Homo sapiens: one gene and its partners. The protein of the gene in region 4 interacts with the protein of the main gene of each other region in a pairwise test. Each region holds a gene or a part of one and is shown on either strand. Other genes may lie near its edges.

Region 1 (8,638 bases), on a different chromosome or scaffold from region 4:
GTCTGATGACAGCTCTGTAGCTGCTCCTTAGAAACATGCAGATATGGCTGGGCATGGTGGCTCATGCCTGTAATCCCAGCACTTTGGGAGGCCGAGGCGGGTGGATCAACTGAGGTCAGGAGTTCGAGACCTGCCTGACTAACATGGTGAAATGCCGTCTCTACTAAAAATACAATTCACCATTTAGCTCTTCTATCTGTTATCTTCTAATTGTTATAAGCCTCAATTTCCTCGGTCAAATGAGTTTACCTATCACATAGGGTTGATTAAAAGGATCAAAAGAGATTGTAGGGCTGGGTACAGTGGCTCATGCCTGTAATCCCAATACTTAGCTGGGCGCAGTGGCTCATGCCTGTAATCCCAGCACTTTGGAAGGCCGAGGCTGGCGGATCATGAGGTCAGGAGATCGAGACCATCCTGCCTCACACGGTGAAACCCCGCCTCTCCTAAAAATACAAAAAATTAGCTGGGTGTGGTGGCAGGTGCCTGTAAGTCCCAGCTACTCGGGAGGCTGAGGCAGGAGAATGGCGTGAAGCCTGGGCGACAGAGCTAGACTCCATCTTAAAAAAAAAAAAAAAAAGAAAAGAAAATCCCAACACTTTGGGAGGCTGAAAGGTAGGAGGATCACTTGAAGCCAGGAATTTGAGACCAGCCTGGGCAACACAGTGAGACCTCATCTCTACAAGAAATATTTTTAAAAGAAATGAGACTGTAGAAGTGAAAGCATTTTTTAAGTGCATACAAATGAAAGGCATTAATACTTTCAGCATAGGTGGCTTAGAATTAAGATAGAACAAGCTCTCAAATTCTTGCAGAATAAAATGTAACCACAAAGCTACCTGAAGTGTCTACAGTGTAATTCGAGAAAGCATACAAGAATGAAAACACTCAAGAAACCATATAAAAATATGGTTATTAAAAAAAAAATCCGAGCGCGGTAGCTCACACCTGTAATGCCAGCACTTCGGGAGGCTGAGGCAGGTGGATCACTTGAGGTCAGAAGTTCGAGACCAGCCTGTCCAACATGGTGAAACCCTGTCTCTACTAAAAATACAAAAATTAGCCAGGTGTGGTGGCAGGTACCTGTAATCCCAGCTACTTGGGAGGCTGAGGCCTGAGAATCTCTTGGGCCCGGGAGGCGGATGTTGCAGTGAGCCGAGATAGTGCCACTGCACTCCAGCCTGAGCAACAGAGTGAGACTCCATCTCGAAAACAAAAAACAAAACACCATGTGTACATACTTATGTTAACCTCAAAGTTACCACTGTCTAAGAAACTTAATGTTCCAGGCCATATCCATGTCTCCTAATTGGTTTGAATAAAGGTTGCAGCTAATGAAACTGAGGTTGCTTACGCCACCCAGTATTTGCCACACACTGCAGTCCTTATTAGCAACACAGCCTTCATTTACTTCTGCAAAGAACTTTACAGCTTTTGTTTTAAGACAGGGTCTCACTCTGTTGCTCAGGCTGGAGTGCAGTGGCATAATCACAGCTCACTGAGGCCTCAACCTCACAGACTCGAGATCATCCCACCTCAGCCTCCTGAGTAGCTGGGACTACAGGTGCATGCCACCACGCCCATCTAATTTTTGTATTTTTTGTAAAGACAAGGTTTCACCATGTTGCCCAGGCTGGTCTTCAACTCCTGAGCTCAAGCAATCCTCCTGCCTTGGCCTCCCAAAGTGCTGGGATGACAGGCATGAGCCACCGCGTCCAGCCAACTTTACAGTTTTAACAAAAAGGCTCTCTCACATCTGTTAAATTATTTGACACTAAAAACAACGAGGTAAATGCACAGGAAGCAAGACTGAGGGTTAAGTGATTTCCTCACTGTCACACGGCAAGTAAATGACCCAGCTTGACCTTACAGGTAAGCCACCTGACTCGTAGTCCAGTGTGTTTTCCGTTATAACTTGTTTTCGTTTTATGAAGCCTATCTGAGTAGTAAGATATTATCAAAGGCTGAAAAAAAACCAACATTGTGGATAAAACAATAAACTCAGTTATTTATGTAGTGAAACAGAAAAAAAAAATCCCTAGGTAAACTTAGAATGGCTAACATTTACTAAGCACATATCACGTGCAAGGCACTCTTCAACATGCTTTCCATAGGTTATCTCATTTCATTCCTACATTGACTATTTTAAAAATACTTATTACCCTAATAAAAATAGCTACATTTATTAAGTACTTGTAGTGTGCCAGGCACTTAAGAGGCATGATTTCATCTAATCTTCCTAATGACCCTGTGAGGTTGCACTATGATTCTCATTTAAGATGAAGAAACTGATACAGAAGTCATCGGATTTATCCCGAAGGCAGGCATCTAGCAAGTGACAAGGCCCAAACTCAAGCCCCATTCTGCTTGGTTCTTTCTTCTGCCCTCCATGTGCCTCTCTAAGATAAGGGGTAGGGTAGATTCGGGACTTGTGTGAAGTAGGGTTGATTGGCTCAAGAGTGAGACAGAGAGATACTGAGCCACTTGACTTAAGAGGTTCAGCTCCTGGGGTTGAAAGAATCTTCAGATACCATTTGGACTAACTGGCCTGTATCATACCTGACAGATGACAAAAATTAGGGCCAAGAAGGGAAGTGACTTGTCCAAGATCACATAAACAGAAGATGCAGCCAACATGTATTAAATGCATACTAAGAGCCGGGTACTGTGTTAAGTACGTTTATTTGAATGATCCCAATCAATCCCTGCTTATGAGCTAAGTACGACATATTATTACCCCCATTTTACTAGTGAGGAACTCAGGCTCTGCAGGTGAAGTCACTTGTCCTGGGTCACGGAGCAATCCAAGCCTAACTCCAGATTTCTCTTCTTAGCTATGCCATATGGACTCTCGGAACTCAGTGGGACTCAAAGTTTGAGGAAGGTGTTTGATGAAGGAAATGAACCCCTTGCCTGAAAAATATCAGATTCTCGAGCACGAAATACCAGTCCCTCACCCCCGCCACCTGATCTAATTCACTCCTACTGCCATATGGGAAATAGAATGCTCAGAAGGAAAGCGGCTTGTCTGCAGTCACCCGGCCTAGACTCTAAAGGCAGGCTCCTATCTCCGGGCCAGGGTCCCCCCTCATCAATGCCACCGTCTCCGGTCGACCCCCCCACCCCCTCCATTGCGGGGTCCACCTCGGGACTGGGTCGGCCCTGGGGCAGGCTCTCAAGGGCCCAAGGGCTGCCATCCCGCGAATCCCGGCTGCAGTACAAGCTGGAACCTGAAGGGCAGAGAGTACCTGCAGGAGGAGACCGGAGGAGGCCAGCCGGGCCGCGTGGCCCAGCACCTCCTGGCTGCCCATAGCCTCCGCGCCAGGCTCAGACACCAGGAAATGCCGCCGCCACTCCGTTTAGTCGCGATAAGATGGCGTCACGGCGCGCCTCGCTGTCTGATTGATGGCCTTGAGAGAGGGGGGCGGGGCACGAGAAGTTCTGGTCCTTTAAGTGGGCCTGTCTCGGGCCGTCTGTTATGGCGCCTGGCTCTTTCTATTTCGGTAGGTTTTGCGCTGTCTGTCGCTTGTGCGCTGTCTGTCCCTCTCTTCCCCGTATAAACGAAATAGTGTGGCGAGTACTAAGAGATACCGTTAAAGAATCCAAAGTTCCTTCTCTGAGGCTTTCAGCCACCAACCAAGAAGCACTAACTTTCCTGGCCTCATCTGCCAAAAGGGGAACAAACTTCTCACTGGCCCGTTAAGAAGATTCTCACCATTGACCTTTGCTTACAGAATCACAGCCACAGACCCTCTGAATTAGGCTGGACAGGAATTGTCCTCATTTAACAGAGAAAGAACTGAGGACCAGAAGTTAGATATAGCACTGTTATGTGTATGGTTTTGTGAAATCCTTCCGAAAGCTCTGAGAATTGGCCCCTGTGGTTAGAGATGAGTAAAGCCTTGGAGATGGGAAGTGACTTGTTCGAATCTACACAACTTGTTTCCTGACTAAGTGGATACCAGGCTCCTGATCCTAAACTTATCACTCTTGCCTGTATGCTAGAAATTGTGAGGGCAGAGTGGAAGAAGGACTGGAAGTGCTTTGTAAAAAAATGTAAAGCGCCCAACATACACAATCAGCTGCTGTTCTGTCAGTGTTCTTATTATCTACCAAGCAGGCTGTAGGAAGCCCAGTCTTTCCCCAATCTCTTTCAGTCCTCACATGATTTGGCCCCAACCTATCTTCTACTACCTTTCACACGATCATTGCCCTTCCCAACACTATCTAGGCCATAGCCATTCCGAGTCCTTACTGGTCCTCAAACAGGCGGTGACTCACTGGCCTTTGCTCCTCCACCCTCTTTGTCCAAAGTGTCTTCCCTGACAGCACCCCTTGCCCTCCTAGACCACACTGTCCTGACTTTCCTGGCCAACCACAGCTGGTACCTGCTGTGGACTAAATGTTTGTGTACCCTCAAAATTCATATGTTGAAGCCTAATCCCCAGTGTGATAGTATTAGGAGGTAAGGCCTTTGGGAAGTAATTAGGTCCTGAAAGTGGAGCCGTCATAATGGGATTCATGTCCTTATAAAAAGAGATGTCAGAAAAATGATCTCTGTGTTTACTATTTGAGGATACAGCAAGAATGTAGCTGTCTGCAACCACGAAGAAGGCTTTGTAAAATGTAAGGCGCCCAACATACACTTAACAGGAACCAAACTGGCTAGCACCTTGATCTTGGGCTTCCAGCCTCCAGAGCTGTGAGAGAAATTTCTGTTTTTGACTTACCCAGTCTATGGTATTTTGTTACAGCAGCCCAAGCAAATCAAGACAGTACCCCTAAAATACTCTGTACCCCTTTATAGTTCCTAATGCAATCTGCATTATAGCAGAAAGACTAGAATATGTGTCTCTATATAATCAGCCCATGAGCTCCAAGAGGGCAGAAGTGCAGCCTGCCTGGTTTTGCTTCCTGAAGTAGCGGTACAGAACATTCTTAGGGCTCCTATAAATGTCTCCTGACACATGACTGCTGCTACTGCTGCTGGAAACAGACTGTGGAACTCAAAGCCTATCACTCCCATCTTCCCAGGTGAAATGAGCTCTGTCTTAGTGTGGAGGCCCAGAATGTGAGCTTTTCTTTTTCTTTTCTTTTCTTTTCTTTTCTTTTCTTTTTTTTTTTTGAGACAGGGTCTCGCTCTGTCTCCCAGGCTAGGGTGCAGTGGTACAGTCTTGGTTCACTGCCGCTTCCACCTCCTGGCCTCAGGTAATCCTCCCACCTCAGCCTTCCGATTAGCTGGGACTACAGGCGTGCAGCACCAGACCTGGCTGATTTTTTCTGTGATTTTTGTAGAGATGGGTTTTTCCCACGTTGCTCAGGCTGGTCTCCAACTCCTGGACTCAAGTGATCCGCCCACCTCAGCTTCTCAAAGTGCCGAGATTACAGGCATGAGCCACCGCACTGCACCCTGCCCAAGAATGTGAGCTTTTGTCTGTCAGAGAGAACTGACCTTGAATCCTCATTCTGCCACTCACTGACTGGGTGACCTCAGTATGCTCAGCTACTAAATAGGGATATTATCTGTCCTGTAAAAATAGTCATAAGGATTGTTTCAGGCAAGTCTGGCCCTCAGAGAGCTTAAATTCTAGTGAAAGGGAAACTGAAAAAAACTCTAACAAACAAATAAAATTTCACATAGGGCTAAGTGCTACGAAAGAATGAAACCAGGTAAGATCCTAGAGGCTTTGGAAGAGAGAGAGGGGTGCTGTTTTAGGATGAGTGAGTTGGGCACCCACCTGGGGAGGAGTGTACTTGGAGAATAGAGAAAGTGCTGGAGGGTCCAGGTATTTGGCATAATGGCTGAGATGCTAAAGACCTTGACCTGGGCAGCCTTCCCACCCCCCTGGACTGTGGGCCAGCAGGTGAGACAGCCTCCCACTTCCTTTATTCCCAGCCAAGCAGTCTCCTCCTCTACAGCTCATCCCCAGAGTAGAACCAGCCAAGAGTTCATCATGTGCACACACTCCTAAGCCTGGCATCCATGTAAGCTGCTTTGGGAGGGAAGAAGTGATCATTTTGCTAGGAGCAAAGAAGTCAAAGGGGAAATGCTCCAAGCTAAGTCTAAAGGGCAAAGCATTCTAGGACCCCAAGGTATGGACTCTGTGGGGCTCCTGGGTGAGGAATCCAGGGACTTTTTCTCTTATTCTGGAAGTTAACACTTGGCAAGGAGGGACTGAGCAGAGCCCAGAGCCGTGCTGGGTTCTGGGGTGGGTGGGGAAAAAGGAACTGTGAGGAGAATCCACAAACATTGACCACTGACTCCATGTCAGGCACCTGTCTGAGCACTCTACATGCGTGTACTCCATCCTGTCAATAACCTATGAGAGAGGGACTGCAGATCAGGAAACTGAAGCACAGGGATGTGACGTAACTCATCCAAGGTCATTCAGCAAAGGAATGGTCAAGGAGGTATTTGAACTCGGGTCCCTTCTGATTCCAAATGCGTGAACAGTAATGTTCCTCCCTTCAAAAAAAGCTTCTGATTGTAAAGGAGACCTAAGAGTCCCTATATGTAAGCCACAGAGAACATATGTGGCATTGAGAGAGTGGAGTCTGGGAGGGCTGCAGCAGTCGAGCTGTGGTAGGCTTGGAGGCATTCCCTCTCCCCAGTGAGGATCTCTGAAGGTCTTGACCCTGTTGGAGATACTGGCCTGCACGCTCCACTGGGAGTTGCATACTCCATGGTCTTGCCCATGGAGGACTCAGCTCAGGGCTGGCAAGTAATGGCCCACTGGACGTTGCATTTTGTATGGCCTACAAGCTAAGAATAGTTTTTACATTTGTAAATGGTTGGAAAAAAATCAAAAGAATATTTCATGACACATGAAAATGGTATAAAATTCAAATTTCAGTGTCCACCAGGTACAGTGGCTCACGGCTGTTATCCCAGCACTTTGGGAGGCCAAGGTGAGTGGATTGCTTGAGGTCAGGAGCTCAAGACCAGCTTGGGCAACATGGTGAAACTCCATCTCTACAAAAAAATACAAAAATTAGCCAGGCATGGTGGTGCGTGCCTGTAGACCCAACTACTGAGGAGGCTGAGGTGGGAGGATCATTTGAGTTTGGAGAGATCAAGGCTGCAGTGAGCTATGATCATGCCACTGCACTCCAGCCTGGGCAACAGGGTGAGACTCTTGTCTCAAAAAAAAAAAAAAAATTCAGTGTCCACAAATAATGTTTCATTGGAACATAGCACACGTACCCGTTTGTTTACATATTATCAATAGCTACTTTCTTGCTACAACAGCAGAATAGGTTGGTCCACAAAGCTGAAAATATTTGCTAGATGGCCCTTTACAGAAAAACTTTGCCAATTCCTGGTGATCACCATTGAGCACCTGGGATATAGTAAACATTTCAATATTGAATGAATGAATGCATGTGTAAGTGCATTGGAATAAATGAATGATGAAGGACTAGGAAAGGAAGAAAGACAAGTACATAGGGCTCTTGTACTCTTGGTCCTCTTGGAGAGGAAGTGGCCCCTTGAGAATACCAGGCTGTAACTGGTGGTCATTGAAGGAGCCGTTTTCCCCAGCCTTCCTCCCCGCCTCCTGCGTCTGTGCCAGGTAGCCTCCCTGCCAGGGAAATCTGACCCAAGCCACCTATTTTATTACAAAGCTGGAGGGAAGTGCCAGAGCTGGTGCCAAGCCAATTAGGCTCCTAGGGCAGAGGAGCAGGGAGGGAGGCTGCTAGTGGGCCAGGAGACAGGGTGGAACCTCTGGCCAGCTGGGCCATGGATCTCAGCTAGGTGGAGGCAGGAGAACTGGGCATGGTCCCACACACCAGCCACTAGGTGGCAGATCGTCCTGGGTGAGGGCGCTGCCTGGCCAAGGCTTCTGCGTCCCAGAGCACCTCCATCAGGGCCCCTTCCAGAAGCAGGACCTCAAGGCTCTGCCTCTCTCAAGGCTCTGCCTCTCTCAAAAGTCCCAGGGCATGATAATGCAGCTGTGATACTAGTCGTCCACATCTGTCTAAGTAAGCACTGTGCTGGACACCTCACTTTCATGATCTCATTTAATTCCCATAGCAGCCCTACAATGTAGGCACCATTATTATCCCCATTTTACAGGCCAAGAAACTGAGGCTTGACAAAGTTAAGGGACTTGCCTAAGTACTAGTGAATGGTAGTGCCAAAATTTGAACTGGGCAGTGTGGCTTTCAGTCCCTTAACCAGACCTAACCCAGAGGGTTTATTGTTAATGCTGATTCCTGGGCTCCACCTCAGCAATTCTGGGGTAGGCTCAGGAATCTGCATTTACCAACACTCTGGGGGCTTCTTCTTTTTCTTTGTTTTCTCCTTCTCCTTCTTCCTTTTTTTTTTTTAAGACAGAGTTTCGCTCTTGTTGCCCAGGCTGGAGTGCAATGGTGTGATCTCAGCTCACTGCAACCTCCGCCTCCCAGGTTCAAGTGATTCTCCTGCCTCAGCCTCCCAAGTAGCTGGGATTACAGGTGCGCGCCACCACCCCCAGATAATTTTGTATTTTTGGTAGAGACAGGTTTTCACCATGTTGGTCAGGCTGGTGGTCTTGAATTCTGACCCCAAGTGACCCACCTGCCTTGGCCTCCCAAAGTGCCGGGATTACAGGCATGAGCCACTGTGCCTGGCCAGCCACCATGCCCAGCCTCTGGGGGC
Region 2 (6,804 bases), on a different chromosome or scaffold from region 4:
TGGCCCGCCTGTGAGCTGCTGACCGTGGGCCACGTTCATCAGCCACACGTCTAGGCCTTAAGCCCACTTCTTAAAGGATCTGCACCCATGGGGGGACATAGAGGGTCCCAGCCTACTGGACCTCCCGAGCTGCCCTTCAGGTCTAAAGCAACATCTGGACATCTCGGCTGGGGCAGATTCCCCATCAAAGGCAACCTGGGGGGTGCAGGCTGGTGCACTGCATGGAGTCGAGGTGGAGGTCACGTGCAGAGCTCCATGAGGTCCCGGAGCCCCCCTCTCAACCCGCTCCTACCCCGCTGGTCCCTCTGAAAGCACCGAGGGGTTGATGGCATTCCTTTCCCATTCTAAACTCCACGCAGCCAATCGCTTTCCTGGAGGAGCGCCAACCTCGAAGACAACTCAGCACTGGGCGGGTTCCCCTCTGCTGCTTGTGCGCATGCGTGCGGCCGCCCAGCAAGCTGTGCCTTTTGCGCCTCTTGCGCGTGCGCCGGGGCACAGGGAGGGACAGCGGGAGGTGTCGCGGGGAGCCTGGTGCCCTTCTAGATGGGCGACGGAGGCAAGGACAAGACGAGTCCGAGCTCAATAAATGCGCTGTGCACCCTCCCCGCCCAGTGTTGTGGATCCTTGGGAGAGGATGTCCTGTGAACGGCACAGGGCGGGGATGGTGTCCCTGGAGCAGTGCTCGGAGCGGCCCAGGTCCCAGGGAGGCGTTTCCGCAGTTCATGGTCTCTGAGTGTGGGTTCGTGGTTATGGAGGGACTCAGGGGATGTTTGAGGGATAAAACGGCATGATGAGGGGACAAGTCACGAGTTTATTGTGGGTCTCTTTTTGGGTTCATGTTTCAGGACATTGGAGGAGATATTTTTGGGTGTTTTGAGTTTTAGGCGTGTTGTGGGGTAGTTCATGAGAACATTTCGCATGCCTTATTAGGTATTGGGGAGTCTCAAGGGACTTTGAGGCTTGTTGGAAGTTCTCACACTATGTGGTCATTGTATGTTATTAAGGGTAGCATAGGGAATTATTTAACGGGCTTGCAGGGACATTTGGGTATTTGGAAAGATCTTGTAATAAAGTGAGGTCTCGGGGTAAGTGAGAGGGTCACAGGGGCTTACTATTATAAACTGTCTGAACACTTCCATCATAGCGGGACGATCCTATGTCCCAGTTTTCCTGGAATGGTCCAGGGTCCACTGGAATGTTCCAGTGTTCCATCTGGTTAGAGCTCTCTTTCATTCCTTTTGGCTACTAGTAAATCCCAAATTGCATATGAGGTTCCCATGGCTGAGGAGGCAGAGGGCGGGCCTGTGCCATGTCCCAAGCCACAAGGGAACAGGCCTGTGGGCTTTTCCCAACAAGCAGGCTCAGTGCCAGCCTCTGTGTCAGCCTCCAGGGCACGCCAACCTTCTCATGGTGCCCCAAGCCCCACCCCAATGCACACATAGGAAGTCTCCAGGCTGCTTGGGCAGAGGCACAATCATTTTAGATTAAAAAAAATTGAACAAAGAGACCCTCTTGCGAGAGGTGAGATGAGGCCCTGCCATGCAAAGGAGTCCCAGCAGAGGAGGAAGAATTCCATCCTGGAGTTCAAGTTTCTGTGCAGAGACAGGACCTGGGGACAGAGAACGGTCCTCCACCCAATTTCAGCTGGTCTGTCCTCATCAGCTTTGGGCTGAGCCTGCGGGAAGTGATGGGGTCCGTTTGTGAGGGTGGATTGAGTTCTTTTCTTTCCAGTGTGCAAACACACACATACACACACACACACACACCACTTCCGTGTTCCCCTGAGCCCCATGCTGCCCCATCTTACCTGGGGTGATGAGAGGTGGAGTCTCCCCTGGATGGTGACTAAGGAGACAAAAGTGGTGAGATTGGTGTCCGCCCCCATTTGCCCTCTCCCTCCGGATAGAGGGTTCTTAGCCTGCCCAGACATGTCTTCCTGGCTGCCTTTCCATTTGGGGGGTTGTGCAATCCCAGGGGCCAAAGCATTTCAGGATTTGGGGCCCCCTGGGGATTACCAGCTAGAAACAATAAACCTGGAAATCTTAGCGGCAGGAACTCTAAAGGGCAGAGCCCCGAGGCCTCTCCTGCTGGGAGAGTTAGCCCTTTCACCCTGAAAAGCGTCCAGTCAGCCTGAGGCGGGCATGCCGGAACAGTATCTTACCCGGACTTCTGGCCAAACTTGCATTTGCATTTTGCACCTGTTGGGGAGAGCTGAGTGGTCAGGGGAGGGGAGCCCCAGCCCCGGCCCGCCTGCTCCCCCGAGCTCCTCCACTCACTCATGACGATGATGATGCCCATGGCGCACAGAACCCCAGCGCAGATGAGCCCGCCAACCTGGAGGCTGTGCCAGTCTAGGAGGAAAGTGGAGGGGACCTCAGTGCCAGCCTGTGTCCTCTCCATCTGTCCCCCCATTCTCTTGACAAATATATATGGAGCACCTAGGATGCACAGGGTGCTGGGGACACCGCCATAAGAAAACAGACAAAATCCCAGGTGCTCACATTCTGGTTCACACACCAGCAAACACGATCTGTCGTGCAGGGTCAGGCAGAGATAAGTGGTTTGAAGAAAAATAAGTGGGGTGGGAGATGGAAAGTCAGAGGGCGGGCTGGGCATAGTGGCTGACACCTATTAGGTTGGAGCAAAAGTGATTGCGTTTTTGGCTAGACATGGTGGCTCACGCCTGATATCCCAGCACTTTGGGAGGCCAAGGTGGGCGGATCACCTGAGGTCAGGAGTTCCAGACCAGCCTGGCCAACATGGTGAAACCCCGTCTTTACTAAAAATACAAAAATTAGCCAGGCATGGTGGTAGGCGCCTGTAATCCCAGCTACTCAGCAGGCTGAGGCTGGAGAATCATTTGAACCCGGGAGGCAGAGGTTGCAGTGAGCCAAGATTGCACCATTGCACTCCAGCCAGTCACACTCTGGGTGAAAGAGCAAAATTCTGCCTCAAAAAAAAAAAATTGCATTTTTGCCATTAAAAGCAGTTGCAAAAACCACAATTACTTTTGAACCAACCTAATATAATCCCAGTGCTTTGGGACTTCAGGAGTTCAGGAGTTCTAGACCAGCTTGAGCAACATAGTGAGAACCCATCTCTACAAAGTATACAAAAATTAGCCAGGCATGGTGGTGTATGCCTGCAGTCCCAGCTATTCAGGAGGCTGAGGCAGGAGGATCGCTTGAGACCAGGAGTTTGAGGCTGCAGTGAGCTATGATTACACCACAGCACTCCAGCTTGGGCAACAGTGTGAGACGCTGTCTCTAAAACAAAAAAAAAGTCAGATGGCAGCTCTTTTAGAGGGAGTTGTCAGGGAAGGCCTCTCAGGGGGCTGCATTTGAGCAGAGGGAAGGGAGGGAGCCATGTGGTTCTGTGGAAGGAAGTGTTCCAGGCAGAGGAACCAGCAGGTGCAGAGGTCTGAGGCTGGCAGTATGTCTGCTGTGTCTGAGAGGCTTGGAGCAGAAGGAATGAGGAGCGTGGAGAGGTGAGGGCAGAGCGGGGAGTAGGGAGCAGGTCATTGGAACCTGGAGGCCAGATGAGGGTTTTGATCCAATAGCTCACCACCTCCAGGAAGTTTTCTCAAGTCAACACTTCTCCCAGCAGTTGATCTGAACCAACCAATGGCTTCTTGCAAACTGTCCTCACCTCCTGCGTGTGTCTATCTTGCTGGAATAGAACCTTCCCAAAGGCCAGGTTGCTGCCTCTAGTTCCTTTAATCCACTGTGTGGCATATTCAGTAACCCCATCCTAGTCCCTTCGTATCTTTGTCCTGTGATGCTCACGTCAGGCCCCAACCCTGTATGGGAACCCTTGGCACCAAGCAGTATGTGGGGTTGTGGGGAGGGGAAAGGGGGCACGGGCTCTCACCATAGTAGAAAGGACTGTTTTTATCTGCAAGGAAAGAAAAAAGATCATGAATCCAGGATTACAGCCAGGATGCAGGCCTTCCCCACCCAGGGGAGAATTTGGGGGTGTGACGGGTGAGAGTCCAGTCTGACTCACCTTCTAGGTCATTGGCGTCCAGGACAGGAAAGCCTAGTGGGAGAAGAGGGGAAGGAGGGGAGATGGTGATGCCGGCCTCAGCCAAGCCTTTGGGCAGGGCCTGGGGAGTTTCAGGGGCCTTGGGAAAGGGTCTCCTGCGGGACAGGGGTCCTGTCACTGAGCAGCCACCTCATCCCCTCATATCCCAACGAGGAAATGTGGACTCGCCCACTCAGCCCCACACCTCCGAGTCACGCCAGCATTCTGCCACCTGAAATGGGTTCTAATCTAGGAGGTTTTTAGCCACTATTTGGTCTCATGTTTCCAGACACGTGGTTAATCCATGCCTCCTGCAGCAGCGGGGGACTTTTCTGGTCAAGACGACAGATGGTTTCAGTTCCCAGATTCCTGTTTCCCCAAGTCCAATCATGCTCAAAGCCCATCCTCCCGCTTCCACCATGTCCACACCCACCTGGTCTGGTGTTTGCACATCATTGAAAATGACTCACTATTATACACTTAAATAGACTTTATTGAAAATGTAATTTTAGATCACTACCCTGCAGGGAATACTGGTCTTGCCCTATGTAATGGACAAAAAGTGTGCCTGTAATCCCAGAGCTTTGGGAGGCTGACGTGGAAGGATCTCTTGAGCCTGGGAGGTCAAGGCTGCAGTGAAAAAGTAAAAAGCGGGCTGGGCACAGTGGCTTAGGCCTGTAATCCCAAAACTTTGGAAGGCCGAGGCAGGAGGATCACTTGAGGTCAGGAGTTCGAGACCAGCCTGGCCAATATGGTGAAACCTTGTCTCTTCTAAAAATACAAAAGTTAGCCAGGCATGGCAGCACACGCCTGTAATGCCAGCTACTTGGGAGGCTGAGGCAGGAGAGTCGCTTGAACCTGGGAGGTGGAGGTTGCAGTGAGCCGAGATCATGCCACTGCACTCCAGCCTGGGCAACAGAGCGAGACTCTGTCTCCGAAAAAAAAAAAAGAAAAGAAAAAAGGGAAAAGTGTTTGGAAGTTAAAGATGCAGTCGCACTGAGCTGAGCCTTCTACTTGAAGTTTTTAGAGAACTGGCAGGGCAGTTATCTTCTTTCAGTGCTTTGAAGGTGTCATTTCATCATCTTCTCTAGCTTCCGTTATTTCTGTTTAATAGTCAATCAAGGCCAGTGCAGTGTGGCTCATGCCTGTAATCCCAGCACTTTGGAAGGCTGAGGTGGGAGGATCAAACTCAGCCAGGAGTTTGAGACCAGCTTGGGCAACACAGTGAGACCTCGTCTCTGCAAAAAATCAAAAATGCACTGGGCATGGTGGCGTGTGCCTGGCATTCTAGCTGTGTAGGAGGCTAAGAGAGTAGGATCGCTTGACCCCAGGAGTTCAAGGCTGTAGTGAACTGTGATTGCGCCATTGCACTCCAGCCTGAGCAACAGAGACTCCCTTTCAAAAACAAAAACAAAAACAAAAACAAAAACAAAAAAAGCCAAAAAAAAAGAAGAGATCGAGAGAATGGGGAAGACGGTGACTTTCCAGCTGTGTGAGCCAGCTCTTCTCGTGTATCCCCGGCTATCACTAGTCTGACTTTTCTTACCCTCAGGGAGATGCTGTTCTAACATTTACCACCTTCCCGGGGAGGTAGAAAAGCACAGGAGAGAGACAGAGGTTGGATCCCCGCATCCAGGGGATCCAGAGGAAAAGGCAGACGGGGGATGGGTACTCACCTGCCAGGAACACAAGCAGGCCCAGGGTCACCTTCTGCATGTCAGAGCGCTGGCCTAGAGGGGTGGCGGGAGGTCTGGCCTTAGCAGAGCCACCGGGAGGCTGGCCCTGTGCCTGTGGCTCCCCAACCCTCCTCCCCTGCTCCCCAGGCAGGGTGCGCAGCTCACCCGGGACAGGAAGGCTGGCATCTCGCTGGGCTGAGAGATAAGCCGCAGCTGCACCGTGGAGTGGGGACTGGGTGAAACTCGGGCCTGAGGCGGGAGGAGCCATAATAACTCACTGGACATGGACTTCAGGCTTTCTGGGAATCGCCCCGCAACCAAACAAGGGCGCCACTGCCCGCTGTTGTCCTCACTGGACAGATGGGGAGACTGAGGCTCTGAGAGGTGAAACTAGGTGCTCTAGCCAGGAAGTAGGATTTAAGCCAGGCCTGGCTCCCCAGCAGCTGCTCCTAACTAGGGACTGTCAGGGCCTTGGGGTGTTTGGGGAAGCGGGGCATTGGGAGCCAGGCGGCAGGAGGCCCGCTTCCCAGGAGTGTCTCCGTAGACCGCTCAGAGCCTGCCCGGCCCTGCCAGGACATTGCAGACTTCAGGCTGAGGACTGAGCAGGTTCTTCAAGCTGCTTGGGGGTGGGGTGGTGTGTGGAGGAATTGACGTGAGGCTGGGACTGGGGGTAGAGGGGGACTCTACCTCCTGGCTGCAGCCCTAGCTCCATCTCTGTTCCCCCGAACCTCCTGCCCCTCATCCCACACCCATGCCCTTCCCGGTCCCAGCCCTGGCTCTGCCTAGCCGGGGTCCCCAGCCCAGCCCCTGACCCTACCCTAGGCCCAGCAGAGTTCCTGGTGACAGCAAACACTTTCTCTTTCCCAGGTAGACCTGCTCAGCATAAGGAACTCGTTTCTCTCTCCTTCCTGACCTGGCATCAGTCCTGCCCTCTCACCAGCCTGCAAGGCTGCACCAAGCCCTGGCCTCCGAGCATGCCCTCCCCTGCCCTGTCCCTGCCCTGTCCCTGCCCAAATGCTGAGTGCATAGTTATCATAATTGTTTTTTTTTTTTTTTTTTTTGAGGCGGAGTTTCACTCTGTCACCCAGGCTGGAGTGCAATGGCA
Region 3 (7,685 bases), on a different chromosome or scaffold from region 4:
TTGTCCCATAACCATCAGACCTCCTTTCCAGAATAAAGGAGACTGCACAAAACGTGTGACATTTACCAAACCCTCATTTGAGCATCCAATAATTTAAAACAATGGCAATGGCAGGAATTATGAAGATGACATTCCGGGTAAGTTCCTGGTTGCGTCTTCCCCAGTTTCATACCTGTTTAAAGTCTAGTGTAAGTCTGGCCTTTCGTTGTTAAGCTGAAGCTAAAAAAGTATTGGATTAGGAAGGATTCTGCCTTCTGTTCAGTCTTCTAACAGTCCTTCTTTTTCTGATTAAGAAAAACTTCTGTCCCCAATTTACATCTACTTATGCTTTCAACCAGCACAGAGTATACCTGCTCTACTTCTATACTAAAGACTGACTTCTCCCTTCTTGGAGTTAAGAACCCTGAACCATGATCCATTTCTTACCATCCACCTTTGCTATCTAAGACACCCTCTCCTTCTTCCCTTGAACCGTCTGCCTCCTCTCCTATAAAGCTTCAGCAGCAGGATGAAGACTCTCTAGTATTCTTCTCATACTAATTGCGTCTCCTTGACTGGCTGTTGCCTCCCCCTTCCTTCCAGCTGGGTGCTCTGCTCTTCTTTTCGCCACCCGTTTGGTGGATTTTAAGCTTGAGAGCACAGACTACAACTGCTGCCTTCTTCACCAACTTCACAGCAGAGCCTTGCAGACAGTAAAATCCCAATAAAATGACGGCTGACTCACCCTCTGGGTGTCACCTCTGTCAGCCTCTTCCATGGGACCCTACGTTTACTTTATACTCACAGCTCCACTTACCTTCCCTAGGCCAAAGCTGCTAACTGCTTTAACCTCTACTCAGCATCTGAATATCAGACAGTGTTTTGTTTGTTTATTGGGTTTGGGTTTTTTGTTGTTTTTGTTTTGGCTGTGCTTCTGAGGAAGTCTTGCTCTTTTTCCTTTCAGTTCTATTCCATTAGGCTTTTTGCTGTGAAATTTTGAATCTGGAAACTCAAGAGAACCGACATCGCAGACTTTGATTTACATGCTGTCAATCTGCTTTGGAAGGTCATGTGGCAAATCTGCCCTTGAGGACCATTTTCAGACAGGAAAAACAGTAATTTCAGCCTGGCTGCTTTTCAGAATTCTTTGCAAACATCAGATGCTCACAATCCAACCGTTTCTCTGTGTACTAACATGTGCTTTTCAAAATGAGTGTCATATTCTTTTTAGTAATACTTTTCTGTGTGTTATGCCCTTTAAATAGTTCTCGTCTTTAACTCCATGTGGCTCTGGTTTGTTTTGTGCCATGCTATTTTGCCCCATTTTCAGGTAACTTTTCTACCTGAATTACTTAGGACCTCTGGATTTATAGCAGATTTGATAAGACATAGATGATAGCATATTTAGATAAGGATCACAGCAAACAGAACCTCACTGAAACCACCCATTCTTCCTGCTTCCACATGGCAGGGTTGCTCAAGGTTTATAAGTAATGATTTTGGCTTTAGCAGCCGGAAGGTATGAGGGCTAAGTGACCTTCACACATGTTTATCTTAAATTATAGATAATTTTAAGAGTCATGAATGGGATTACTACTTATCTATTTTATAAAAGCTAATTATTTGGGATGCCCATCAGAAGAATGGTATCCCTTATCAAACGCTTCCTTAGACGTACTGAATAAAAGCATCAGTTTAGCCGGTACCTGTTAAGAGGCTATGTCTTTCTAAGAGATGTGTTATTTGATTCTAATTATAATTAACTTTGCTTATTACTAAGTAGATAATAATTTTCTCATTTCATATTTTTTCTGAATAACAGTTTTTCTCCCCATAGAGAATATTCAGAAGATGGAATCCTTTTAACGTAGAACTCAAGATGTGCCCTGTTCTCCCTGCCCGCCTCCCATTTCCCTAAACACACACACACACACACACACACACAAACACACACATTCTCCCTTCTCTCAAGATACTTTTTTTCCAACTGAGAGTCGTTGACTAATCACAGATGAGTTAATCCTTCCACAGTTTTGAAAAAGTCTAGCAACCCTCACCTTGAAGAGAGTGAATAGCGTGGCTAATCCATCTAAGAACAATGCACGAAAACGAAAAACGGAGAATCCTGCCCGGCAGTTAATTTGTTACTCATACTTGTTGAACTTAAGATTTGGAGCTAAATAAGTGCAGATGAGAGCAAAGACCCATCTTTTAAATATTTAAGCTTTTAGGCAAACCTGGGCAGGCAATATCACATTTATCAGTGCGAATTCTCCAATGCTCTCTAAAACTTTATTTCAATGATCTCACCTCCTGTAAGGAATTAATTCCCCCTTAGCTTGACCACAGGATCAATATCTTATCTTAAGAAGTGTTTAGGTTTTCTAAAAAAAGACCAGACACTGAAGACTTACATAAACATCAAAGCATTCTTTTTTTAATTCCTCGATATGGAGAAATTCATAGGCCGAAAATTAGGTAAATAGAGAGGTAATTACCAATGCCTGTTTCCTTGACAACTCCCCTCCCCCACCCCTCCTGTGATAGGGAAAAACCAAAATGAAAGTGAGGAGGGGTAGCCACAAGCCATGCTGGATTTTAGCAAACCAAAGCAAGAAGCAGAGCAGAAAGCTGCAAACTAGACACAAAATACAAATAAATCAATGTATATCGGGGCTGCATATTGTGTAGTATTTTTGTGGTTGCCATAGAAACGTCAGCGACGGAAGAACATGTTGCATGACACAAAAGAGAGCAATATGTAATAGGAACATTCCCCCCACCACCACCCCCCGCCCAGCTTCGTCTATAGCAGAGAAAATGCTTTAGCCCCGGGAGGGGGCTGGGTGGGTGGGTAAATGAAGCCAGGAACAGCAGCTTGAAATCACAGCCCAGAAAGGGACGCTCACCCGGCCCAGCACAAAGCGAGGGTCCTTTTGTACCAGCAGAGCCTCTCTTCGCCTCCCTCCAGGCGCCCCCTGCACCTTTCCCCCGCCCGCCTTGCACTCCCCCCCCGCCCCCGGAGCCTACCCCTTCCAGAGGTCCTAAGGAAATCCAGCCCAGGAGAGAAAAATATGCTGGGAAGAGGAATGCAAACATCAGCCACACCCAGCGGGGAAGGTGCCTGCGAACGGCACCAGGACCACATACCTCCTTCCTGGCAGCCTTTGGCACATGGACTTAGAAACCAGAAGCTGAGATGGAGCCGGCTGGGTTCAGAAATTGCCACTAGTTTATAAGAGCTGTAAGTCAGCCAACACTGGAAAGAAAAAGCGAGACTCCACCCATGGGGTGGACCCTTCAGGAAGAAAAAAAAAAAAAAAGTGGTCCTCAGCTGACGTCTCTCCCCACCCATGTCACTTCCTTTTAAAGCTACAAGTTAGCAGTTGCCGAGAGGGAAGAGCGAGCTGGTGTAATATGAGTCACTCCCTTCCCCTTCCAATTAGTGTAAGGCAGTGCTTCAGTTGGCTTCACGTTTGAAATCGCTTTTGAAATCTGGCTCGGGAAGCTGCCAGGATAAAAAAAAAATGAAAGCCCCCTGGAAGTGGCCTTGCTTTCTCTCCCCTTTCTCCCAAATCCTGTTGCATCCCTGCGCCCTAACGGCTCCTCTAACCTCAACCCAGACTCCGGCTCCGTCTGTGTTGCAACCTGGAAATTGTCCTCAGTTGGCTCATTTTTAATTCAGCAAGCGTAGGATCAATATGCCCACCCTCAAAACTCTCCCCTCACCTCTCCTCGGTCCGCTGTGCTGGAAGGAGATTGCGTTGCACTCAGAAGAGTCCAAATCATCTTAAACAAAATAAGCCTCAGCACTCAAGAGATTGAGATGTTATGAAGTGGGATGAAAGAAGCTTGGAGGTCGATTGATGTATTTTCTGTTTTCAAACCTTAGCACCATGGTTGATTACCACTGCACAGGCGTGCACACACGTACTGTCGCATGCTCACATGCACGTGGCATTTACACAGGTGTATCAGAGAGGGTCTGGGCAGACCTTTATAGTAAAAGTGTCTTCACAATTTTTAAAAAGGGTGGGCTGTTGAAAGTCCAGAAATGCCAGGATCTAGAAAATTATTTCAATTTCAAAATACTGAGGTGTATTCCTTTCAAATGTCCACTATTACAGCCATTGTCAAAATAATATTTAACTATTTACTTGACTCCTGGGTTAACCTTGTTCTTTAGATGTTTATAATCTATAAAGGAAAAATACATGTGCTCACAAATAGCCCAAGCACATTGCAGAATTACTAACAGCTATGCAAGTGTCAAAACCAGTGTGTCATGAAGACAGAATAGAAAGTGCTTTTTTGATTGCGATGGGGGAAGGCATTGATCATTCAGGAAACAGGGTTTGGAGTGGGTCCTATGGGAGGTGGCATTTTTCTTGTCTGTGATGAGAGACGGGGAGAGTGAAGCAGAATGTGGTGGAAGAGAAAGGATATGTGAGGCAAACAAAAAAAGGATCAGAACAGAAACCCATTTGTAGCAATAACTTGTTTTAATATCCATGTGAAAATAAATTTGACCACAGAGTAATGCTTATAAAAGATTTTTATAAAAAGTTCCTTGTAGTCATCATCTCTCGTAACTTTTCGAACTATGTTTTACGACCCATGTGCTTCTAGATTTGGTGGAAACTTGAGTTTTTCAAAGTGTTTTTCAAGTAGAGTTACACTGTTTTTCACGGTTGAATTCTGAATGGTAATTTATTTCAAAACCTACAAATTGCATAAATTCCTGATAATGTTATAAGTACAGTCAGTGATTTCAGTGGAAATGATAGGAAATTTAAAATTTGGACAATTGTAACTTTTATCCTGATCTCAGTACTTTAACATCCTCATTCCATTATTACATTACAATTATTATTATACTTATTATTGCTAACACTTTGCCTGTCTAGACAATGTTGCTCAGTCCCAGTTATCTCAGATATAGCTGAGAAATATGGGAGAAAAAGTTACTATTTCTAAAAATTTAACATAGAAATTCAAAATTCATGGATTAAATCCTATGCTTTTTTTTTTGAGACAGAGTCTTGCTCTGTTGCCCAGGCTGGAGTGCAATGATACGATCTCAGCTCACTGCAACCTCCACCTCCTGTGTTCAAGCAATTCTCGTGCTGCAGCCTCCCAAATAGCTGGGATTACAGACATACACTACCACACCCAGCTGATTTTTTGTGTTTTTGGTTGAGACGAAGTTTCACCATGTTGCCCAGGCTGGTCTCTAACTCCTGACCTCAGGTGATCCACCTCCACCTCCCAAAGTGCTGTGATTACAGGCAGGGAGTCACCACGCCCAGCCCTATGCACATTATTGAGTGCCATTTAGAGTCTATCCTTATGTGCCCTTATTTAGCTATTTCTATCTATACAAGGAATTGTGAATATTTCCAGGTCACAACGTAACAACTCAGTTCAATGTATGTTTATTGAGCATCCATGTTAGTTGCTGAAGATACAAAAACACAGATAAGACATGGAAATGGCCCCAAAGTGCTCAAAGTCTTAGAAGGGAAAGCGAAATGTAAACAGTTAAGACACAATGGAGGCAATGATTGACATTTGTACAAGATTCAGAGGTGGTTCGAGAATGGGAAAAGGAGAGGGAGGATACATCTACATAGTTTCTTAGCTAACAGTGGACTCTAAAAGGGGTGGAGGTGGACAGTATACTCATCCGTGAGATGGTAAGAAATAAATACTGGCAGTTGGAGAGAGGAGAAAAAAATTGAAAAGGAGACACAAATCATAAATTGGTAACCTAAAAAAGATATATAAGTGGTCCGTAAACAAAGAGGCAACCTTACATAAAAATACAAGTCACAAAGTAAGGATGTTATTTCTTTGCCTAGTCACTTGTCCAACACTCAAAAAGCTAGAACGTGCAGTGCAGAGAATGCAATGCCATGGGTTCTCTCTTCTGCTGGTGATGGCAAATTGATACAATCTCTGGAATTCAATTAAAGAAGATTTTTCATGAGCCTTTAAAATGTTCATACCCCTTAATCCAATAATTCGACTCAGAATAATTTATACCAAGGACATAAGCAGAGATAAATTCAAAGATTTGGGAACATGTATATTCATCAGAGCCATTTATAATAGTAAAGTCTGGAAACCATCTGAGTGTTTGAAGTAGCAGGTTAGCTATGGAAATGATGTAATCTTCATATGATGAAACACTCTACAAAAAATTAAAATTCTGTGTTTGAAAGACCTAGGGAAATTCATGGTATCTTAAGTGTAAAGGGAACTAAGCTTTATATAAATTATGGTCCCGTTTTCGTGATTCTATAAATATATATTACAGTGTGTGTAGTGGGTTGAATAAGTGTCCCCCAGTGTCCCCCACAAATTCATGTTCACCCAGAACCTCACAATATGAATTTGTTTAGAAACAGAGTCTTTGCAGATGTTAATCAGCTGAGACGAAGTCATTCTGGATTAGGATGGGCTATAGACCCAATACCTGGTGTCCTTATAAAAAGAGGAGAGGATGCAGAAAGACACACACATAGAATAAGGCCATGTGATGGCGGAGGTAGAGATGGGAATGATGTGTCTATGAATCAAAGATTGCTGGCAAACACCAGAAACCAGGAGAGACGCATGGAACAGACTCTCTGAGAGCCTCCAGAAGGACCCAACCCTGCTGATGCCTTAATTTTAGATTCCTGGCCTCGTGAACTGTAAGAGAATAAATTTCTGTTGTTTTAAGTCACACAGTTTGTGCTAATTTGTGATGGCAGCTCTGGGAAACTTAATGCAGTGTGATGAAGATCATGAAACTGTTAATAATCATTACTTCTGGAGAGTGAGATTGAGGATGATTTTTATTTGCTTCTTTATATGTGATTGCACTTTGGAGAACTTTCTACAATGGATGAACACGTGTGACTTTTACAGTAACAAGATTAGGACTAAAAACCAAATAACCTAGGTTTCTGAAACTGTTTCTGCAATTTAGAACAGACATAAACAATAATCAGTGATGCTTACGACACGGTGAGTCCTGAGGAGTAACATATTTTCAAAGCCCAGTGAGAGGTAGAATTCTGCATATCTCAGAAACTTCTTTAAACCTAAGTTTTGGTACTTAAAATGATAACTATCACTTATCTGAAATGTGAACTTACACACTATGTATTAACTGTTGTGCTAGATAGTGGAGTCACTGATGGCATTGTTACAAATTGCCCATTCTGTTAGCACAATGTTATTACACATTAACAGTATTTTTGCTTTATTTCCACTTGCCTCGTGTTGTGAACATTGATACAACATCCACACAAACCTATACACTGAGTTTAAAAATGTTCTCAAGTTATACAATATGAAGATATAGATTTGCAACTATGATGACCTCATTATGTGCTACATTGGAAATTGTGGCTGCTTAGAGGAGACAAAGGAAAATTGTAAATGCTAAAGTTAATTTGATATTTGGGGTCTATAATCTTATATTTAATAGTTATATATGTCAATAAAAACCCAATAAAGTTCTTAAAATGTTGTATGTTTTTATGACCAACAAACTCTTACGGCTCTCGTTATTATTACAATCATTTCAAGTACGATCAAAGAGGTGTAACATTAATATCATTGGGGAAAGTGCAGAGGAACTAAGAAAAATTTCCTCCTTTGCCAACAATGGTTATGACCTAAGTTATTCCCATAAGATGGATGTATTTACAGAA
Region 4 (7,844 bases):
GACAATTCTAAAAAATTAATTAATTTTAAAAGGAATACTGTATAGCAGGGTTTAAAAGGCAAAACATAACAACAGTTTTGGTGAAAATATGTTATCCCATATGATTGCAGACACATTTTGTTTTATTTTCCCAAGTTAATTCAGGGACCAACATTTACACTGAAAACTGAATAATCTTTTTTTTTTTTCTTTTCCTCCATCGCCCAAGCTGGAGTGCAGTGGTGCAGATCATGGCTCATTGCAGCCTTGACCTCCTGGGCTCACATGACCCTCCTGCCTCAGCCTCCTGAGTAGCTGTGAGTACAGGCATACATCACCATGCCCAGCTAATTTTTTATTTTTTGTAGAGACAGGGTCTCGCTATGTTGCCTGGGCTGGTCTCGAACTCCTGGGCTCAAGCAATCCTTCCTTCCTCCTCGGTCTCCCACAGGCCTGGGATTACGGACATGAGCCACCATGCCTGGCTTTGAACCATCTTAGGGTCAGTTGGTTCAGACAGTGCAAAGACTGCTTCCCTGTGGCCTGACAGGAAAAGTATACCTCTCGGGAATGTTCCTCCTCAGATCAGACCCTCAATATGACAGCACTCGGCCCCAGCATGGGGTAGATCCATCCTGTAGATGGCGGCATCTCACAGTACAAGGGCTGCTGAGGCCAGCTCTACCCAAGGAGCTGAGAAAACCGCCTCCTAAACCCTCACCTACAATTGCTCCTGGCCCTCCCAGGGCAAAAAGAGAACAGACTTCCCCTGTGGGCCCCATCAGCCCTGCCCAGGGGACTGAGAGATCATGGAGCTTCCTTATTGATTCTCTTGTCCAGTGCTGCCCATAGGGAGTCCAAGGACCGACAGCATCTGCTTCCCCTGGGAATTAGTTAGAAATGCAGATTCTTGGGCCCCATCCCAGAATACTGAATCAGAATCTCTGGGAGTGGGGCCCAGCAATCTGTGTTTTGGGGTTTTGTTTTTCAAGTCAAGGTTCTCTCTCTGTCACCCAGCCTGGAGTGCAGTAGCATAATCAGAGCTCACTATAACCTCAAACTCCTGAGTTCAGGCAAGACCTCCTCCCGCCTCAGCCTCCCAGAATGCTGGGATTACGGGCATGAGCCTCCTCACCCGGCCCCAATCTGTGTTTTAACAGGCCCTGTGGGTGACTTCCATGCACTCAGGCGTTTCAGGGGCACCTGTTATCTCCAACTTCCTCATTTTAGGAATGGAGAAATTGAGAACAGATACAGGAAGCAACTTGTTGGTCAGCCAGGCAATGGCAGAGACCACACAAAAACTCCGCTTCCCAGCGTTCCTTCCACTTGAACTTTCAGTAACTTCCTTTCTTTCTTCCTTCGTTCATTCATTCCTTCACTCATTCATGCCTTCCACCTCCAATTACATGCTTTGGGCTGCAATGGAGGACCAGGCGTTTGGGGACAGCCTCACCCTTCTTCCCCATGTGGGGCTTTCTCAAGGCCAGAGGTCTAGGATTCAGGATTGTGGAAGCATCTGCTAGATCTCTTCCAGCTCACCCCTGGGTCTCCAATTCCAGCCCAGATAGGAGTCTGATGTAGGCTGCAGGCGGGCCCCACTCCCCAGCTCCTTCTGGTCTTCTTTTCCTCTTTCTTGGCACCTGGGGCTCTCTGTCCCATTCCTCACTGCCAATGTCTTGCTCTTGGGAGAGATGCAAGGGCTGGAGGCTGTTACTGTTCCATTTCCCAAAGGGATGAATGATCAAATTAAAGGCCCTTCCCAGCAATGGCTTTGCGCTGAAGGAGCCAGGACTAGGTCCAGACCAGGGTTCGCAAGTTAGCATCTTGAGCTGGATAATTCCTTGCTGTAGGGCTGTCCTGTGCATTGCAGAATGGTTAGCAGCATTCCTGGCCTCTCCCTAGCAGATGTCAGTAGAATTCCTCCACCAGGTTGTGACAACCAAAAATGTCTCCAGATATTGCCAAGTGTCCCCTCTGGGTGGTGTTGCCAGATAAGACAGAGAATGCCTGGTTACATTCTTTTTTTTCTTTTTCTTTTTTCTTTTTTTTTTTTTTTTGAGACAGAGTCTCACTCTGGAGCCCAAGCTGGAGTGCAGTAAGGCGATCTCGGCTCCCTGCAACCTCCGCCTCTGTGGCTCAAGCATTTCTCATGCCTCAGCCTCCTGAGTAGCTGGGACTACAACTACGCACCACCACACCCAGCTAATTTTTTGTATTTTAGTAGAGATGAGGTTTCACCATGTTGCCCAGGGTGGTCTTGAACTCTTGATCTCAGGCAGTCCATCTGCCTCTGCCTCCCAAAGTGCTGGGATAACAGGCGTGAGCCACCACGCTAGGCTGAGCATTCTAATCGCACATAAGCAACAAGTAATTTTTAGTGCCTGAATGTCTCAACTATTGTTGCATTACCTCACATACTTATTTTTGTGGTGAGAACACTTAAAATCTACTCTCCATCATCTTCAAGAATATAATTCATTGGGCCAGGTGGGGTGGCTCATGCCTGTAACATTTTTTACTTGAAGAATCTTGCAACTCTACCTCAGGGGCAAAATCTTTCTTCATTGGCCCAGATCAGGGTCTGGGGTGTGGGGAGCAGTTAGTGAGAGGATCTGATGAGATAATCATAGGCCATGAGTTTACAAGGGCAAAAACTTTGCCATAATCATCTCTGTATCCTTAGAATATAATGGCGTCTCATTAAATATTTTATCTGAGAGTGGGTGTGAGGACACTTGGAACTATATCAGATACCATACCTGAGTACATCCAGCCCAGGACTGGACATTAGGGACATACTCCCTAATAAATATAAACTGAAGATAATGTTTAGTTTGACTCACATAGCATTTTTTAAAGGTGTGACTTTGGGCTTTACATTCTAAAATTGGCAACTGGCTGAGCATGGTGGCTCATGCCTGTAATCCCAACACTTTTGGAGACTGAGGCGGGAGGATTTGCTTGAGCCCAGGAGTTCAAAACCAAGCTAGGCAACATAGTGAGACCCCCATCTATACAAAAAAATTAAAAAAAAAAAATAGCCAGGTGTGGTGGCACATGCCTGTTCTGCCGGCTACCTGGAAGGCTGAGATGGGAGGATCACTGGAACCCAGGAATTTGAGGCTGCAGTGAACTATGATCGTGCCGCTGTACTCCAGCCTGGGCAACAGAGCGAGACCCTGCCTCAAAAAATTAAAATAAAATAAAATAAAGTAAAATAAAATAAACAGGAAGTGGCTGGGCGTGGTGACTCACCCTGTAATCCTAGCACTTTAGGAGGCCAAGGTGGGTGGATCACTTGAGGTCAGGAGTTCAAGACCAGCATGGTCAACATGGCAAAACCCTGTCTCTACTAAAACTACAAATTAGCTGGAGGTGGTTGTGTGCACCTGTAGTCCCAGCTACTCAGGAGGCTGAGGCAGGAGAGTTGCTTGAACCCAGGAGGCAGAGGTTGCAGTGAACCGAGATTGCGCCATTGCACTCCAGCCTGGGCAATAGAGCGAGACTTGGTCTCAAAACAAAAACAAACAAACAAAAAACAAAACACACACACACACACACACACAGGAAGCTATCACATAAGTCAAGATTTCTGGTATCTCTTGAAAAATACAGCACAACTTCCAAATGCTTGGAATATCTGACAATTTGCCTATACTCCCAAGCAGAAAAGCTTGGCTGGAACTAAGAGGTACCTGCCCCTCTCTACTGGCCCAGATCAGGGTCTGGGGTGTGGGGCAGATACCTCTCAGCTGGGCCAGTAGAGAGGGTCAGGTACCTCTCAGCTCCAGCCAAGCTTTTCCACTTGGGTCCTGTGTTCCCCCTATTACCCACAGTCCCTACCACTCCCTATTGCCCCACACCAGGATCCATCACCCATTATGTTAATCTGCCTGTAGGCATTTGCATTTCAAAGCTCTGGCCTAGTGGTGAAGAGGCATTGGAATGGCATGTCCTTTTAGGTGATCTACTGTAATGTTGGTGCATTATCCCCATTTTACAGATAAAGAAACTTGCCTTTGGGGAAGTTAAGTGAATCAACATTTTAACGAGGCTGTATTAGAACCCAAGTCCCTTGACTCCAGGGTCTAGGCCCATGCCCCACCCTGGCCAGAGTTCGTTGTAAGAGATAACTCAACCGCAGGGGCAAGAGCATTGTGGCACCAGGGACCTGGAGGGGAAGTGGTAACAGGCACGGAAGGCCAGACCTCCTCACACTCACTCATCTGTGAGAAAGTACAAAAGCAAGAGAAAGCTGGCTTGGGGTGGCACTCAACAGGTGCTCTGAGTGGCACCCACGGCCAGGTCCTGGGAGAGGACAGAAAACAACTGGGACTCCTCAGCCCCCGGCAGCTCCCAGTGCCCAGCCACCCACAACACAACCGTGAGTAGCTTTTTTTGTTGTTTATTTTAGGCTTCTTCCTCATTCCCCAACACCTGTATTCTTTTTTGTTTGTTTGTTTGTTTTTGAGACGGAGTTTTGCTCTGTTGACCAGGCTAAAGTACAGTGGCACAATCTCGGCTCAGTGCAGCCTCACAGGTTCAAGCGATTCTCCTGCCTCAGCCTCCCGTGTAGTTGGGATTACAGGTGTGCACTACTGCGTCTGGCTAATTTTTGTATTTTTAGTAGAGACAGGGTTTCACCATGTTGGCCAGGCTGGTCTCGAACTCCCGACTTCAGGTGATCTGCCCACCTTGGCCTCCCAAAGTGCTGGGATTACAGGCATGAGCCACTGCACCTGGCCAAAACCTGTATTCTTACCTTATCCCTTCCCTCCAGGGACACAAGAAGCCAGGTGGGCCTGTCTGGGGCAGGGGATAGATGTCATTTCAGGACACCTGGGGTTGTGGAGGACCAGTCGCAGGAAAGTTCAGGGCTGGCATCCCCCTCCTAGGACCAAGAATCAGGACTTTGGCTTTCATTTCATTACAGAGACAAGAATCACACACACAGAGATGGCCTTACTGTGTGCCAGGCGCTGCCCTAAGAGCCTTTAGTGGTTGGATTTATTTAATCCTCACAACAGCCGTATGCAGTAGGAGCTATCACTGTTGTCCACTTGATAGGTGGGGGCTAGGTGACCCACCTGAAATCATGCGGGCATTGAATGAGAGCATTGGCTTGAGCCTAGGCACTCCGGCTTCGCGGCCCACCCTTCAGCCACCAGGCTATCCTGCCTTACGAGGTGTGGACTGCAACAGTAGATGGGGGCCAGGAAATGACAGGGGCTGGCAGAGGCCTTTGAGATGACCAGGTGAGTCCTGCGCTCTCATTTTATAGATGGGGAGACCACAAGGTAGTGTTAGGGGCACACTGGACTCAGGAGGCCAGGGGTCTGCTTTGGTGTAAGTTCCACTCAGCGGAGGGAAGAGCAGTATTTTCCAGTGTGCCCTGGGGTCAGCGTCCAGGTCTGAATCCCAGCTCTGCCACTGGTAGCTCGATGGCCTAATGCAAATCACTCCATTTCTTTCCTGCTCAGCTTCCTCTTCTGAGAAACATGGGCCTGAGAAGGTCACTCACAGGCTTGTTGCGAGTCAACTGTCTGATGCGGGCACAGGGCGGGCAGCAGCACAGGGCTCGGGAATGGCTGTGGTGGAGAGTTTGATCTTCACCCCATCTGCTCTTGCTGTGGATCTGAGATGAGGATAAAATGAGGCCTGGCTGCTTTTCCCTGGAATGAGTGGCAAGTAGACACGTTGGCAGCATGAAAACCAGGATGGAGGCTGGGGAGAAGTTCAGGGAGAGCTCAGGAGGTGGAGTCCCAATAATCCTGGCCCCAGCTCTGTAACCACCTTGTGGCTTACCAGAGTGACCCCCTAACCTGCGCTGGGCAGGTGAAGCATATCCTTTACCCTTTGGCCGGCTAAGGCCAGGATAAGGCAGTGAAGACGGGAAAATGGCAGCCTGGCTCAGCCAAGCAGAGCCCTCCAGCGCCAGCCCCCTCTCTTCCCACCTCATTTTACAGTACCAGTCACTCTTACTGCACACCCTCGGGTGTGCATAAATTGATCTTTTCTTTATTCAGTTGAAGTCACATTCAATAGGACCCTGAGCCTCATCCTACTGGGCTAGGAGGAAATTTAATCTCCAAGTGCACTGAGCTTCCCTCACTCCCATCCCCACCCATGCACATTGACCCAGAGGACACACAGAACATAAGCGTGAGGGAGGCTCCTGGGTCCTCCTACGATGGATGCCCATTGCCCAAATGGACTTGATTGTCTGAAGTCCAGCCTTGCCCACTTCCCTGGCATGCCTGGAGTCCAGATTCTTTGTAAGACCTGAAACCACTGTGTCTCATTTTGACATCCAGGATATATCACCCAGTGACTTCCCCCAGAGGTCCTGCCATCTTCCCAGAAAGCAAATTCTAGGTGCCCAAGACCTCGGTCCCCTCCCAGCCAAGGACAATCTCTCCTCTCCCCTTGGCTGTGGATGGCAGATGGACACTCTTCTCTCCCCACCCCCCACCCACGTGACCTAACCTTCTCACTGCGCTCAGGTTCTCAGGAAAGGACAGGAAGAAGGGTTGTCTTCAAATAGCTTCTGCTTCCTACTCTCACCCCTGAAAAAAGTCCCCGAGCCACGAGACACAAAGGGCACTCTGAAAAGAGACAGGCAGCCCTATCTTACAGATGAGAAAAACCAAGACTCAGCAGCAGTGTTGACTTGCTCAGTGTCACACAGCCAAGGAATAGCGGAGCCAGTGTGAGCAGAGAGTCCTGCGCTGTGGGTTCAGAGCTTGTGCTATCAATCACATGGAATCACATGGAAACCCAAGTCTCCCTCATCAATTACTCAGGCAACCTGGGGCAAGTTACATCACCTTTCTGAACCTCAGTTTCTTCAACTCTAAAAATGACGCTATCATAGCATTCCCAACCTGCCTCAAAGGGGCTCTTGTTTTTTGTTTTTTGTTTTTTTGTTTTGTTTTCTTTTCTTTTCTTTCTTTTTTTTTTTTTTTTTTTTTTTTTGAGACAGCGTTTTGCTCTTGTTGCCCAGGCTGGAGTATAATGGCGTAATCTCAGCTCATTGCAACCTCTGCCTCCTGGGTTCAAGCGATTCTCCTGCCTCAGCCTCCCAAGTAGCTGGGATGACAGGCATGCACCACCACGCCCGGCTAATTTTGTATTTTTAGTAGGGATGGGGTTTCTGCATGTTGGCCAGGCTGGTCTCGAGCTCCCGATCTCAGGTGATCCGCTCTTGTTTTTTTCTTAAGCGAAGATTGATGAAGCATTTACTACACATTTGAGCTCTGTGACCGTTCCTCATTAAGTCCTCACCACAGCCTAGGAGGGGGCTGCTATCACTAACCACATTTGCAAGGTGAGAAACTGAAGCTCACACAAGCTTAAGACTTATCCAAGGGGCCGGGCATGGTGGCTCATACCTGTAAGCTTGGCACTTTGGGAGGCCCAGGCAGGAGGATAGCTTGAGCTCAGCACTTCAAGACCAGTCTAGGAAACATAGTGAGACCCTATCTCTACAAAAAAAAAAAAAAAAAAATTAAAAATTAGCCAGGCATGGTGGCACATGCCTGTGGTCCCAGCTACTCAGGGGGCTGAGGTGGAAGGATTGTTTAAGCCTGGGAGATTGAGGCTGCAGTGAGCTATTATTGCCTGGGTAACTGAGCAAGATACTGTTTCAAAAAAAAAAAAAAGAAGGAGAGAGACTTGTCCACAGTCCCATAACTGGTGGTAATGGCAAAGCTGAGACTCAAGTCCAGGTCAATCTGGATCCAGAACCAAGCCATATTGTGGTGGGAATCAAAATAGGAGAACGGGAGTGGAAATGCCTCTAGGTATGGAGATGCAGGGCAGGCTCGGGGACTCATGATCAGGGTTGTCTTTACTGTGTCGCT

What was found.
Region 1: the proteins of CNR2 (region 4) and RFT1 interact in binary tests that used the Homo sapiens proteins (3 or more experiments, as listed by UniProt).
Region 2: the proteins of CNR2 (region 4) and FXYD3 interact in binary tests that used the Homo sapiens proteins (3 or more experiments, as listed by UniProt).
Region 3: the proteins of CNR2 (region 4) and AGPAT4 interact in binary tests that used the Homo sapiens proteins (3 or more experiments, as listed by UniProt).

Annotation. Positions count from the first base shown.
Region 1 is NC_000003.12:53,127,090-53,135,727, forward strand, and holds the start of RFT1 (man(5)GlcNAc(2)-PP-dolichol translocation protein RFT1), read right to left. Parts: upstream 3,347-8,638; 5' UTR 3,312-3,346; coding exon 3,249-3,311; intron 1-3,248.
Region 2 is NC_000019.10:35,118,312-35,125,115, reverse strand, and holds the end of FXYD3 (FXYD domain-containing ion transport regulator 3 isoform 1 precursor), read right to left. Parts: intron 6,627-6,804; exon of another isoform or gene 6,517-6,626; intron 5,949-6,516; coding exon of another isoform or gene 5,865-5,948; intron 5,754-5,864; coding exon of another isoform or gene 5,740-5,753; coding exon 5,700-5,739; intron 4,039-5,699; coding exon 4,006-4,038; intron 3,895-4,005; coding exon 3,871-3,894; coding exon of another isoform or gene 3,782-3,870; exon of another isoform or gene 3,451-3,781; intron 2,439-3,450; coding exon of another isoform or gene 2,352-2,438; coding exon 2,277-2,351; coding exon of another isoform or gene 2,199-2,276; coding exon 2,162-2,198; coding exon of another isoform or gene 2,158-2,161; exon of another isoform or gene 1,913-2,157; intron 1,846-1,912; coding exon 1,808-1,845; intron 1,676-1,807; coding exon 1,659-1,675; 3' UTR 792-1,658; downstream 1-791. UniProt on the Homo sapiens protein: Associates with and regulates the activity of the sodium/potassium-transporting ATPase (NKA) which transports Na(+) out of the cell and K(+) into the cell.
Region 3 is NC_000006.12:161,270,809-161,278,493, forward strand, and holds the start of AGPAT4 (1-acyl-sn-glycerol-3-phosphate acyltransferase delta), read right to left. Parts: upstream 3,254-7,685; 5' UTR 3,130-3,253; intron 1-3,129. UniProt on the Homo sapiens protein: Converts 1-acyl-sn-glycerol-3-phosphate (lysophosphatidic acid or LPA) into 1,2-diacyl-sn-glycerol-3-phosphate (phosphatidic acid or PA) by incorporating an acyl moiety at the sn-2 position of the glycerol backbone.
Region 4 is NC_000001.11:23,909,768-23,917,611, reverse strand, and holds the start of CNR2 (cannabinoid receptor 2), read left to right. Parts: upstream 1-4,249; 5' UTR 4,250-4,366; intron 4,367-7,844. UniProt on the Homo sapiens protein: Heterotrimeric G protein-coupled receptor for endocannabinoid 2-arachidonoylglycerol mediating inhibition of adenylate cyclase. May function in inflammatory response, nociceptive transmission and bone homeostasis.